3 separate regions of the Homo sapiens genome follow, and regions 1 and 2 are each linked to region 3. The links come from fine-mapping of genetic effects on gene expression. A gene starts in region 3. Each other region holds a variant in brackets. All regions are shown on one strand. Distances are from middle to middle. Region 1 overlaps DMC1 (DNA meiotic recombinase 1). Region 2 overlaps TOMM22-DT (TOMM22 divergent transcript). Region 3 holds the start of CBY1 (chibby 1, beta catenin antagonist).

Evidence for each region. PIP is the estimated chance that this variant, and not a neighbour inherited with it, causes the effect. A credible set is the group of variants that fine-mapping cannot tell apart.
Region 1: its variant is the best candidate, but not a certain one, in a credible set for the expression of CBY1 in prefrontal cortex (ROSMAP, PIP 0.54).
Region 2: its variant is the best candidate, but not a certain one, in a credible set for the expression of CBY1 in fibroblasts (GTEx, PIP 0.85).

The regions. Positions count from the first base shown.
Region 1 is chr22:38,533,059-38,537,290 of GRCh38, forward strand. All of the region lies in intron 12 of DMC1 (DNA meiotic recombinase 1), which reads right to left. Among named protein-coding and RNA genes, the nearest start is that of DDX17, 29 kb to the left of the region's middle. The variant C/CCACA (reference allele first, on the strand shown) is at 2,352.
Region 2 is chr22:38,675,235-38,679,466 of GRCh38, forward strand. It overlaps TOMM22-DT (TOMM22 divergent transcript), which reads right to left. Exons shown (of 2, transcript XR_007068097.1): 2 at 282-1,255. Among named protein-coding and RNA genes, the nearest start is that of TOMM22-DT, 4.5 kb to the right of the region's middle. The variant T/C (reference allele first, on the strand shown) is at 2,572.
Region 3 is chr22:38,654,073-38,658,304 of GRCh38, forward strand. CBY1 (chibby 1, beta catenin antagonist) reads left to right here and starts at 2,566. Exons shown (of 5, transcript NM_015373.4): 1 at 2,566-2,678. FAM227A (family with sequence similarity 227 member A) reads right to left here and starts at 2,320. Exons shown (of 17, transcript NM_001013647.2): 1 at 2,048-2,320.

The DNA.
Region 1 (4,232 bases), 120 kb before region 3:
TTCACAGGAATCTCTTGTAACTAAGTAGAAAATACTTATAAAAGGGTCTTGAGGCCAGACGCGGTGGCTCATGCCTGTAATCCCAGCACTTTGGGAGGCTGAGGCAGATGGATCACGAGGTCAGGAGATCGAGACCATCCTGGCTAACACGGTGAAACCCCGTCTCTACTAAAACACAAAAACAAAATTAGCCGGGTGTGGTGGCGGGCGCCTATAGTCCCAAGCTACTAGGGAGGCCGAGGTGACAGAATGGCATCAACCTGGGAGGCGGAGCTTGCAGTGAGCCGAGATCGCGCCATTGCACTTCAGCCTGAGTGACAGAGCGAGACTCCATCACAAAAAAAAAAAAAAAAAAAAAGAGTCTTGAAAAGTGAGAGATAGATATCAAACTGCGAAAGATGAAGCAAAATTGTTAAGGGTAAATTTGGAAAATGCTTAAAGAGAGACACATTCATTTCAATGTAATTTACAGAATTTACTCCAGCATATCAAATATCTTTTAATATATCTGTCAATGATACATTTAATCTGCTACCATATGATGCATTGCTTCTGTTTTAAAGTAATAGCACTTTGTATTGCAACCATCAGAGTAATAATTAATTTACTCTAATTAATTTAGGCAAGAATCTTCAATGGATGCTAATATAAATGCATGAAAGCTTATTGCAGAGCAAGATATTTACACAGTCTCAAATTATCACACCACAAATTACTAATTAAATATAAAAGAGAATTTTTGTAATTTTCTTTTACAATGGAGACATCATGTGAATATCATCTTAATCATATGATCAGAATTAACATCACTAATAATGGGACAAACTGCCATCATGTGCCTCCTGATATGATATACTGAGAAGGCCATAATATTGCTTATGTAGTTTTCCTGTCAAAATGCTTAACATTTTAAGTAATGAAGAAAAAATTCAACTTCAAATTGAGGGACATTGCAAAACAGTTGGTCTGTGTTCTACAAAAATGTCGGTGTCATAAAAGTCTAACAAAGGTTGAAGAGCTGTTCTGATTAAAGGAGACTAAAGAGACATGACAATTACACGCAGTGCATGTTCTTCAATTGATCCTGAATTGAATGCAAAACAAAAAAACCCCCAACAACTATAAAGGACATTATTGGGGCAACTGGAGACACTTGAATACAACTGTATATTAGATAACATTATTATGCCAATGTTAGAATTTCTGAATGTGATAATTATATTGTGGCTATGTAGAAGAACATCATTATTCTTAGAAGAGATATGCTGAAGTATTAAGAGGTGAAGTGTCATGATGTCTGTGAATAATTTTCAGTGGTTCAGAAGAAACTTCTCAAATGGTTCACCAAAAAATACATATACAGGCTGGGCGTAGTGGCTCACACCTGTAATCCCAGCACTTTGGGAGGCTGAGGTGGGCGAATCACCTGAGGTCAGGAGTTCGAGACCAGCCTGGCCAACATGAAGAAACCCCGTCTCTACTAAAAATACAAAAATTAGCCGGCCATGGTGGCAGGCGCCTGTAATCCCAGCTACTCGGGAGGCTGAGGCAGGAGAATTGCTTGAACCCAGGAGGCAGAGGTTGCAGTGAGCTGAGATGGTGCTGCTGCACTCCAGCCTGAGTGACAGAGCAAGACTCTGTCTCAAAAAACAAACAAACACGACTGAGTGCGGTGGGTCATGCCTGTAATCCCAGGACTTTGGGAGGCCAAGGTGGGTGGAACACCTGAGGTCGGGAGTTCGAGACCAGCCTGGCCAACGTGGTGAAACCCTGTCTCTACTAAAAATACAAAAAAAATTAGCCAGGGGTGGTTGGCAGGTGCCTGTAATCCTAGCTACTCGGGAGGCTGAGGCAGGAGAATTGCTTGAACCCAGGAGGTGGAGGTTGCAGTGAGCTGAGATCGCACCATTGCACTCCAGCCTGGGAAACAAGAGTGAAACTCCATCTAAAAAAAAAAGAGGCTGGGCACAGTGGCTTATGCCTGTAATCCCAGCACTTTGGGAGGCCGGGGCAGGTGGATCGTGAGGTCAAGAGATAGAAACCATCCTGGCTAACACGGTGAAACCCCGTCTCTACTAAAAATACAAAAAATTAGCCGGGTGTGGTGGTAGGTGCCTGTAATTCCAGCTACTCAGGAGGCTGAGGCAGGAGAATCGCCTGAACCTGGGAGGCGGAGACTGCAGTGAGCTGGGATCGTGCCACTGCACTCTAGCCTGGGTGACAGAGCGAGACTCCGTCTCAAAAAAAAAAAAAGAAAAAGAAAAACAAACAAAAAACCGTATACACATACCACATACATATACATATGAGAATGTGTGTATGTGTGGAGAAACAAAGGTGTATGTACACCT[C/CCACA]CACACACACACACACACACACACACACATACAGGAGAGAGAAAAAATGTGGCAAATTTAACAACTGATGAACCTAGATAAATGAGTATGTCTTGCTCTGTCTCCCAGGCTGAAATGCAGTGGCATGAATTCATTGCACTAGTTTTTTAACTTCTCTCTGGTAAAAATATTTTCTAAATAAAAACCTTTAAAAAAATCTTTTTTTTTTTTGTTTTTGAGACGGAGTCTTGTTCTGTCACCCAGGCTGGAGTGCAGTGGCACGATCTTGGCTCACTTCAACCTCTGCCTCCCAGGTTCAAGTGATCCTCCTGTCTTAGCCTCCCAAGAAGCTAGGACTACAGGTGCACACCACCATGCCTGGCTAGTTTTTTTATTTTTAGTAAAGACAGGGTTTTGCCATGTTGTCCAGGCTGGTCTTGAACTCCTGACCTCAGGTGATCCTCCCACCTCGGCCTCCCAAAGTGCTGAGATTACAGTGAGCCACTGCCCACTGCACCCAGCCTTTAAAAGATTTTTTTAAAAGCTTTTTGGCTAGGCAAGGGGGCTCACACATGTAATCCTAGCACTTTGGGATGCTGAGGTGGGAGGATCGCTTGAGGCCAGGAGTTCGAGACCAGCCTGGCCAACATGGCAAAACCCTGTCTCTTCTAAAAATAAAAAAATTAGCCAGGCGTGGCGATGTGTGCCTCCCAGCTGCTCGGGAGGCTGAGGCTGGAGCATCACCTGAGCCTGAGAGGCAGAGGTTGCAGTGAGCAGAGATGGTGCCACTGCATTGCAGCTTGGGTGACAGAGTGAAACCTTGTCTCTTAAAAAAAAAAAACACACACACACTTTAAAAAAGCATTATCATGAATTTAGATTTGTTTTGCTTTGTTTGAGACAGTCTTGCTCTGTCTCCCAGGCTGGAGTGCAGTGGTGTGTATTTAGGATTATTTTGATTGCTTATTCAGACACATAATGCTCAAAATTTGTTACGGTGGCAACAAACCTTTGTTTGATTTATCTATTTTTATTATCCTACTTTAGCTCTCTGTGTGTTTCTATTCACTGCCGTCTTTCAGAGTCATCAATAGTTATGTGCACAAACACTTCAACAAATTCTGAATATGCCTAGTGTGAACTGAAATTCTTTTTCTTCAAACAGGAGACTTCTCCCATAGTGCCTCTGATAAATATATCTCATGTATATCCTGTAGAAAGATGACTTTTTTGTTTTTATGAATGGTGTTTATTATACTGATAAGCTGCAATATAAGTTTTTATTTCCCTAGGATCTATTTCTTATTGTCCTCCCATACCCCTTTAGCCCTAGACCAAAGAGAAGCCCAAAGTACTGCTGAAAATGGTTAAAGTATTGCTTTATTCTATAAAGAACTAGAGAAAAATAGATTCTGGTTACCAAGTGATATTTACAATTATGAAGTCATATACACTGTGCAATAAAGTGATTTTTTTTTTGAGATGCAGTTTTGCTCTTGTTGCACAAGCTGGAGTGCAATGGCATGATCTTGGCTCACTGCAACCTCCGCCTCCCAGGTTCAAGTGATTCTCCCACCTCAGCCTCCCGAATAGCTGGGATTACAGGTGCACGCCACCACGCCCAGCTAATTTTTTGTATTTTTAGTAGAGACGAGGCTTCATCATGTTGGCCAGGCTGGTCTTGAACTCCTGACCTCAGGTGATCCAACCATCTAGGCCTCCCAAAGTGTTGGGATTACAGGCATGAGCCACTGCGCCCAGTAATAAAGTGATTTGTGATATATTTGTGCCCACATAAAGACTAATGATTTTTAAATTCTTTTCTTTTTTCTTTTTTCTTTTTGAGATAGAATCTTGCTCTGTTTCCCAGACAGGAGTACAATGGCGCGATCTCGGCTTACT
Region 2 (4,232 bases), 21 kb after region 3:
CACTGTCTCATTTCCCCTTCAGCTCAGCCCTGTGTAGCAGGGGCTATCGGCACATCCATCTGCAGAGAAGGAAACTCTGGGAGGTTCAGACACTGATCTAGGATCACACAGTAGAAGTGCTGGAGCTTGATTCACACAGCCCGCTATGAAAGAGAGGAGCTGGGGGCGGCCTCAAAGGGAGCTGCTGTCTGCAGTCCATCCTTACGGCCAGCAAAGCACTCTATGGGGGGGATGGATCGAAGGGCAGATTTGTAGCTCCAACCCATAACCTGACTTTCTGATACAGGAGAGAATGTTTAATACAGAAGAAATTGGAAAAGGATCCACATATATGCAAGGTGTAAATCTTCAGGTGCAGATAATAGGAGCAGTGGAGTTTGCTTATGCCTCGGCCGGTATCACTGGGGACCCTTTATTAATATTCCTGATGCTGGACACCTCCCGATGCTGGACACCTCATTTGCATGACACTCTTTCAAGTTTGTTATCCCCATCACCATGTTTTAGATGAGAAAACCAACCCAGCACAGTGACACAGTGGAAGGGTGGGGCCAGGACTGAAGCCTTGGGCATCATGTGGGCATATTTCGTTGTCACAATGGTGTGGATCCCCCCATGACCAGCACCATTAGGACCTTTGGGGGTTGCAGCCAGGAACCCTAAACATCCTGTGGTAGGAGGGGCAGTTCTGCAGTGAAGAAGGAATTTCTTTTGAGTGAGCGGGGAAGCAAAAGCCATTGTTATGAGCAGATAAATGCTATGATCCAACTGCACTTTTAAAAGGCGCTGGGCGTGGTGGCCCATATCTGTAATCCCAGCACTGTGGGAAGCTGAGGTGGGTAGATTGCTTGAGCTTAACAGTTTGAGACCATCCTGGGCAAAATGGTGAAACTCCATCTCTACCAAAAATACAAAAAGATTAACTGGGTGTGGTGGTGTGCACCTGTGGTCCCAGCTACTCAGGAGGCAGTGGTGGGAGGATTGCTTGAGTCCAAGAAGCAGAGGTTGCAGTGAGGTGAGATCGTGCCATTGCACTCCAGCCTGCTGACAGAGTCAGACCCCGTATCAATCAATCAATCAATAAAAATAAAAGGATCCTTCTGGTGGCTTTGTGGTGAGAACAGACTGAAGGAGGCCAGGCCCATCCCAGGGAGGCCACAGTAGATGAGGTGAGGTGGTCTGATTCTGGATAACACTTGAAGGTAGAGCCTCCCCGTGATGGCTGGGAATCAGGGACAGTCCCATGAATGAAAGTCTTTAGGAGAAAAGGAAAAAAAATCACCCATATATCGCCACACTAACCCTGTTTGCTTCAGCGAGGTGTTTTGTTTTGTTTTTCTTGAGACATTATATATTTTCAAATCTAAATAGAGCCAGATATATCCTTCAGGTTCTGGCTAAAATTCTTCATCCTCAAAGACTTTATTGGCCAGGCACAGTGGCTCACGCCTGTAATCCCAGCATTTCAGGAGGTCAAGGAAGGAGGATTGGGCTGAGCCCAGGAGTTTGAGACCAGCCAGGGCAACATACTGAGACACCATCTCTACAAAAAAAAAATTTAAGTTAGCCAGGCGTGGTGACACACACTTGTAGTCCCAGCTACTTTGGAGGCCGAGGTGAGAGGATCCCTTAACCTGGGAGATCGAGGCTGCAGTAAGCCAAGATTGCACCACTGTATCCTCCAGCCTGTGTGACAGGGCAAGACACCGTCTCTTTAAAAAAAATTTAAAAAGGGCCTGGCGCGGTGCCTCATGCCTCTAATCCCAGCACTTTGGGAGGCCGAGGCGGGCGGATCACCTGAGGTCAGGAGTTTGAGACCAGCCTGGCCGACATGGCAAAAACCTGTCTCTACTAAAAATACAAAAATTAGCCTGGCATAATGGCAGGCACCTAATCTCAGCTATTTGGGAGGCTGAGGCAGGAGAATCATGTGAACCTGGGAGGTGGAGGTTGCAGTGAGCCGAGACTGCACCAGTGCCCTCCAGCCTGGGCAAAGGAGCAAGCCTCCCATCTCAAAAAAAAAAAAAAAAGAAAGAAAAGAAAAGAAGATTCTGTGGACGAGAGGGAGGGCATGAGTGCAGGATTAGAGGCAGTAATGGCAGGAAGACCGAGTTTGAGTCCTAGCAAGGGGAACTGCGCAGACAACAGGACAGGCATGGGCTAATGTGCACTTTCTAATGAGAGGGGCTTATAGTTTTTATAGGATTCTCGAAGGGAGCCATGCCCCCACCCCCCAATTAAGAGCTACTATATCACATGTTTCTAATTCTGACAGGACAGAAACAAGCAAGGTGGAAATCTTGGGCTCGAGAGATGGGGAGTAGAGGAGCTAAGAGCCCAGCGTTCTTGAACCTGCCTCTCCCATCCGATGGCAGTCACCTGGGCTCCTAGCATGGGGCATTGCCACTCACTTGCTGACACCCTTGTCCACTGATGCGACCTCCATCCTGGCACCAGTCTCACCATGTCATCTCTGCTGCTGAGCCTTCCTCTTGAAGACTTCAGCAATTCCTCAGCCCTCTGGTTTCCCTCTCTCCCCAATCTTTAAATGTCTGATTCCACAGGACTCTG[T/C]CTTTTTTTTTTGTTTCTGAGACAGAGTCTGGCTCTGTTGCCAGGCTGGAGTGCAGTGGCGTGATCTCGGCTCACTGCAACCTCCAACTCCCGGGTTTAAGCAATTCTCCTGCCTCAGCCTCCTGAGGAGCTGGGACTACAGGCGCCTGCCACCACATCTGGCTAATTTTTGTGTTTTTAGTAGAGATGGGGTTTCACCATGTTGGCCAGGATGGTATCAATCTCTTGATTTCGTGATCCACCCGCCTCAGCCTCCCAAAGTGCTGGGATTACAGGCGTGAGCCACTGCGCCCGGCCAGGGCTCTGTCTTCTGTTCTCACTCTGCCTTTTCTTTTCTTTTCTTTTTTTTTTTTTTGAGATGGAATCTCACTCTGTCGCCCAGGCTGGAGTGCAGTGGTGCAATCTTGGATCACTGCAAACTCTGCCTTCCGGGTTCAAGCGATTCTCCTGCCTCAGTCTCCCAAGTAGTTGGGATTACAGGTGCTCACCACCACGCCTGGCTAATTTTTGTTTTTAGTATAGATGGGGTTTCACCATGTTGGCCAGGCTGGTCTCGAACTCTGGACCTCAGGTGATCCACCTGCCTCAGCCTCCCAAAGTGCTGGGATTATAGGCATGAATCACTGCCCCCAGCCTCACTCTATCTTTTCTAGATCATCTCATCTCCTCCCAAAGTTCTGAACACTCTGCATTGCATGATTTCCAGTATTTTTTCTTATCCCTTGGAAATTCTATAATCATTGAAAGAGCTCTTTCATCCTTAAACAGGTTTTTTTTTTTTAAATCATGTGTTGCTCTTATGAATATAAGCAAAATTCATTGGTTTTCCTAAAACTTCTCCACATTAGCATTGCGAATTACTTTCCATTTGGAGTCACTAATGTCTGTGCTTTTCAAATAAGATTGGTCCCTCTACGTTCAATAGCATTAGTCTTCTAGCATTTCTTAAATGAACCCATAAAAGAACTAAAAGCTGTTGGCACTGGGCTCTTAAGCTGCCCTCGAAATTATAAAGGGCTAGCCCGCTTTTTTTTTTTTTTTTTTTTTTTTTTGAGACAGAGTCTCACTCTGTCGCTCGGGCTGGAGTGCAGTGGCGCAATCTTGGCTCACTGCAACCTCCGCCTCCCAGGCTCAAGGATTCTCTTGCCTCAGCTTTCCGAGTAGCTGGGAATATAGGCGCCTGCCACCACGCTTAGCTAATTTTTGTATTTTTAGTAGACAGGGGGTTTCACCATGTTAGCCAGGCTGGTCTCGAACTCCCGACCTCAGGTAATCCACCCGCCTCAGTCTCCCCAAGTGCTGCAATTACAGGCATTAGCCACCGCACCCAGCCCCGCTCTTTTTAAAAAAGTAACCTTTTTAACACAGGCAAAAAAGCATAGTTCATAAGTGTACAGCTTGATGAATTACCCAAAATCAACACAGACCTAAGAGAACCATAGCATCCCAGAAGCTACTCTCCTGCCCCTTTCCAAAATTAACCCCTTCAAGGGAATCACTGTCCTGACCTCTCATCATAGATTGGTTTCTGCCTGTTTTTGAACTTTATATAATGGAATCATACAGGAGTACCCTTTTGTCACATGAAAACTGTCTGATAGGCCAGACTCACGCCTGTAATCCCAGCATGTTGGGTGGTCAAGGAGGCTGGATCACTTGAG
Region 3 (4,232 bases):
GCGCGGTGGCTCACACCTGTAATCCCACCACTTTAGGAGGCCGAGGCAGGCGGATGACGAGGTCAGGAGATCCAGACCATCCTGGCTAACACGGTGAAACCCCGTCTCCACTAAAAATACAAAAAACTAGCCGGGTGTGATGGCAGGCGCCTGTTGTCCCAGCTACTCTGGAGGCTGAGGCAGGAGAATTGCTTGAACCCAGGAGGCGGAGCTTGCAGTGAGCCGGATCGCGCCACTGCACTCCAGCCTGGGCAACAAGAGCAAAACTCGGTCTCAAAAAAAAAGAAAAAATGGGGAGCGGAAATAATATGCCATCCAAAATGTACCATCCAAGCAGCGGGAAGTGAGGCTGGAAAGGTAGGAAGTGCCCAGACTGTGCTGGCCATCAAAATAGCACTAGCTACATGTGACAATTAAGTCCTTGGAATTTGGTTAATGTGACTGAATAAGTAAAATTTTAAGGCTGAATGCAGTGGCTCATACCTGTAATCCCAATACTTTGGGAGGTGGGGATGATGTCACTGCACTCCAGCCTGGGTGACAGAATGAGACCCTGTCTCAAAAAAATAAACAAAAGGCTGGGCGCGGTGGCTCACGCCTGTAATCCCAGCACTTTGGGAGGCCGAGGCAGGCGGATCATGAGGTCAGGAGATCGAGACCACCCTGGCTAACATGGTGAAACCCCATCTCTACTAAAAATACCAAAAAAAAAAAAAAAAAAAAAAATTAGCTGGGCTTGGTGGCGGGCGCCTGTAATCCCAGCTATTCGAGAGGCTGAGGCAGGACAATGGCATGAACCCAGGAGGCGGAGCTTGCAGTGAGCTGAGATTGTACCACTGCACACTCCAGCCTAGGCGACAGTGCGAGACTCCATCTAAAATAAATAAATAAATAAATAAATAAATACCAAAAAAAAAATTAGCCTGGCATGGTGGCGGGCGCCTGTAGTCCCAGCTACTTGGGAGGCGGAGGCAGGAGAATGGCGTGAACCCAGGAGTCGGAGGTTGCAGTGAGCCAAGATCATGCCACTGCACTCCAGCCTGGGCGACAGAGCGAGACTCTGTCTCGAAAAAAAAAAAAAGTAAAATTTTTTTAAAGTAAAGCAATAAAAGAATGGCTACTCCATAGATAGAACAGCCAAGAGTAAAATTTTAATTTTAATTAATTCAAATTTTGGCCAGGCGCAGTGGCCCGCACCTGTAATACCAGCACTTTGGGAGGCCGAGTCAAGCAGATCACCTGAGGTCAGGAGTTCGAGACCAGCCTGGCCAACATGGTGAAACGCCATCTCTACTAAAAATACAAAAAATTAGCCGGGCATGGTGGTGGGTGCCTGTAATTCCAGCTACTTGGGAGGTGAACACAGCAGAATCGCTTGAACCCGGGAGGCCGAGATCATGCCACTGCAATCCCAGCCTGGGCAACAGAGTGAGACTCTGTCTTAAAAAAAAAAAAAATTAAATTTTTAAATGGAAGCAGTGCAAATTTAGAAATACTGATTATATCTTGAAATAGTAATGTTTTGGACATATGGAGTTTAAAACATTACTCAAATTAATTTCACTTGGCTTTCTTTTTTACTTTTTAAAAAATGTGGCTACTAGAAAATTCCAAATCACATATGTGGCCTGCTTTATGTTTCTATTGCACAATGCTAAGCCAGATTGTGAAGATTTTAGTTCTAGGACATGGAAGTCTCCCCTCTTTTAATGCAGGGTGGTGTAGTTGGAAGAGAACTGCGCTTGGAGTCAAAGACCCCTGGGTCCTGCCCCTCACTGGATGCCCTGATACACCCACTAGGCAGCCGGTAAACTCCTTGAACGGCCTAAGTTTCTGCACTTATCAGACGGAACCAATAACACACGCTTTTAGGACTCTAGGAGATCTGGAGTTGATTCTCCAGTAGTTCTCTGTCCCTTCCTCACAATGCAACCTTTAAGTAGTCCCTGGGCCTCAGCTTCCCTTGCTTGTAGAAGCCGCCATAACGGCACGGGGAGGGGGCAGGCTGCCAGAGGTGGGTCATGGTGCGTCTGTCCGTCCGTCTTACCTGAAAGCATCGGCGGAATTTGACGAACCCGGGGCCGGTCCCGCCACGGGTCCCTCAGGGGACCCCGCAAAGTTCTGGGTCGGCCCCCGACAGCCGGTGCCCCCAAACTCACAGCAAGGGGTGCCCTTTGCCTTGTGCTGGGGGATGAGGAGGGGAGTTGGGGAGAGGCCCATTTTGCTACTCTGAGTCCAGGCGTTCTCTAGGCAACGCCGGCGCGGTCTCCACTTTCCCGTTTAGCATAACAATGGAACCTTCGTGAGCCGCCGCGTTGTCCGCGAGATGCCGTTTCTATGGTGACAGCCGGGCCGGGGGCCCAGACCAATGTGTCAGTGGAGAGGGTGAATGCAGGTCCTGGTCCTAGAGGCATGAAAAGGACCCCAGAAGACACTGCCTTTGTATAATCCGTTTGCTATCCCGAGGTGATTCACGGAGTTTCTGGGGATTGGCGCAGGCTGGCGCTGGGAACCCCCGCGCCGGTTACCCCTTTCCTCGGTGGTAGAGGCCGGGCGGGGCAGCGCATGCGCGTGGCGGGCAGGCGGCAGGAGGCGGGTGGGTCAAGGTAACTCTGGGCTACAGAGTCCTTGCTGGGGGTTCGGGGAGCGCTTGGACCCCGGCTTCTGGGACGCGTCAGGTACGTCTCCGAGTCCGGCGTCGCCGGCCAGCGCTGCCTGGGTTCACTCGGGGGCCCGAGCTGAGTAGGACGTCCGGGCCTCGCCTGGAGAGAGGCTTCAGGAGGGCCTGGGGAAGGGGACGGAGGCCGGGCGACCCCGGGCGGTGGCCGCCCTCCTCTGTGTGTCTCCGCGGTTGTGAATTGGGGCGGTAATTCCTCCCCGTAGGTCGCCGTGAAGATGATTGCATGAGATCGTGCGTGTGAACGTTTGTTGACAGCTGTTACTTGAGTCCGACAGCCCTGGGGGCCGTGCATCTGCGTAACATGGCTACCTCTGAACTCCTTGGGGGACACGTATATCTTTGAGAATCCGATGAAAACCAGAGATTCCGCCCTTGTTTTCTTAGAATTAAAGTAAGATAATATATTTTATGGCCTGTTGCAAACGGAAAACCTTTACACAATGATTAGTGATTAGTATCAGTATCTGTGGACTGGGAAGGCTCTACTTACTCGATCCTCTTCCCAGGGTCGTTGTGAGGATCAAGTGCACAGCTTCCTATAAACACTAAAACACTATAACATCTTGTGAGCCAGGTACTATTATTATTCCTCAGTGCAAAGAAAGAAGCCGAAGTCCAAGGGGGATAAATGCTGGGGTCCCACTGTGGGTGAGCCGCAGAGTGATCATTGGAAGCCAGGTGCTCCCCCTTCACTTCCTGTGTGCGGAGCACGCTCGCCCTGGGAGTTTCACTAGAAAGAAGGTTGCCATGGGCCAGTGGGACAGCTTGTATCTCAAGTGCACGCGGATGCCCCAGAATCCCAGGATCTCAGCTGAGCTGTTTGTGGATTATTAGATCTGACTTAAAAGGTAGCTAATCCAGACCCTTCCTCATCTGTAATACATGGATGACAGCTCCCAGCTGTAGTGTTATGAGAATTAGTGCGGTCATGAGTAAGGTGCCCAGTTAAAGCCCGAGAAGTAAAGCAGCTGGGCCAAGGTCTAGCAGGCAACTGAAGGGGAGAGCCAGGCCCCTAAACTTGTTGTGTCCAGCCCATGTGCTCAGGCCCAGTGCAGTTAGCATCAGTGGGGACTTGACTTATTTCTCCTTCTTCAAATGTCTCTAGATTTTAGGCATGCTGGGGGCTGCTTCTTAACTGTGTTTTGTTTATTTTGTTCATAAGTAATACATGAATATATTCTCATTGTAATAATTCATTAAATCTCGAGTATATTTAATATAATTTTATATTGTACCATATGAAATTGTCACAATTTGACCTTTTTTTAACCTATAAAATGACAAGTTCATTCAAGTCAGTCATCCTATTCCCTTTTTCAGGTTTAACCACTATGAACAGTTTGGTGTATCCTTCCAGATCTCTTTCTTTCTTTTCTATTTTTTTTTTCTTTGAGATGGGGTCTTGTTCTGTCACCCAGGCTAGAAAGCAGTGGTGCAATTTCAGCTCACTGCAACCTCTGCCTCCTGGGTTCAAGCAATTATCCTGCCTCAGCCTCCTGAGTATCTGGGACAACTGGCGCACACCACCACACCCGACTAATTTTTGTATTTT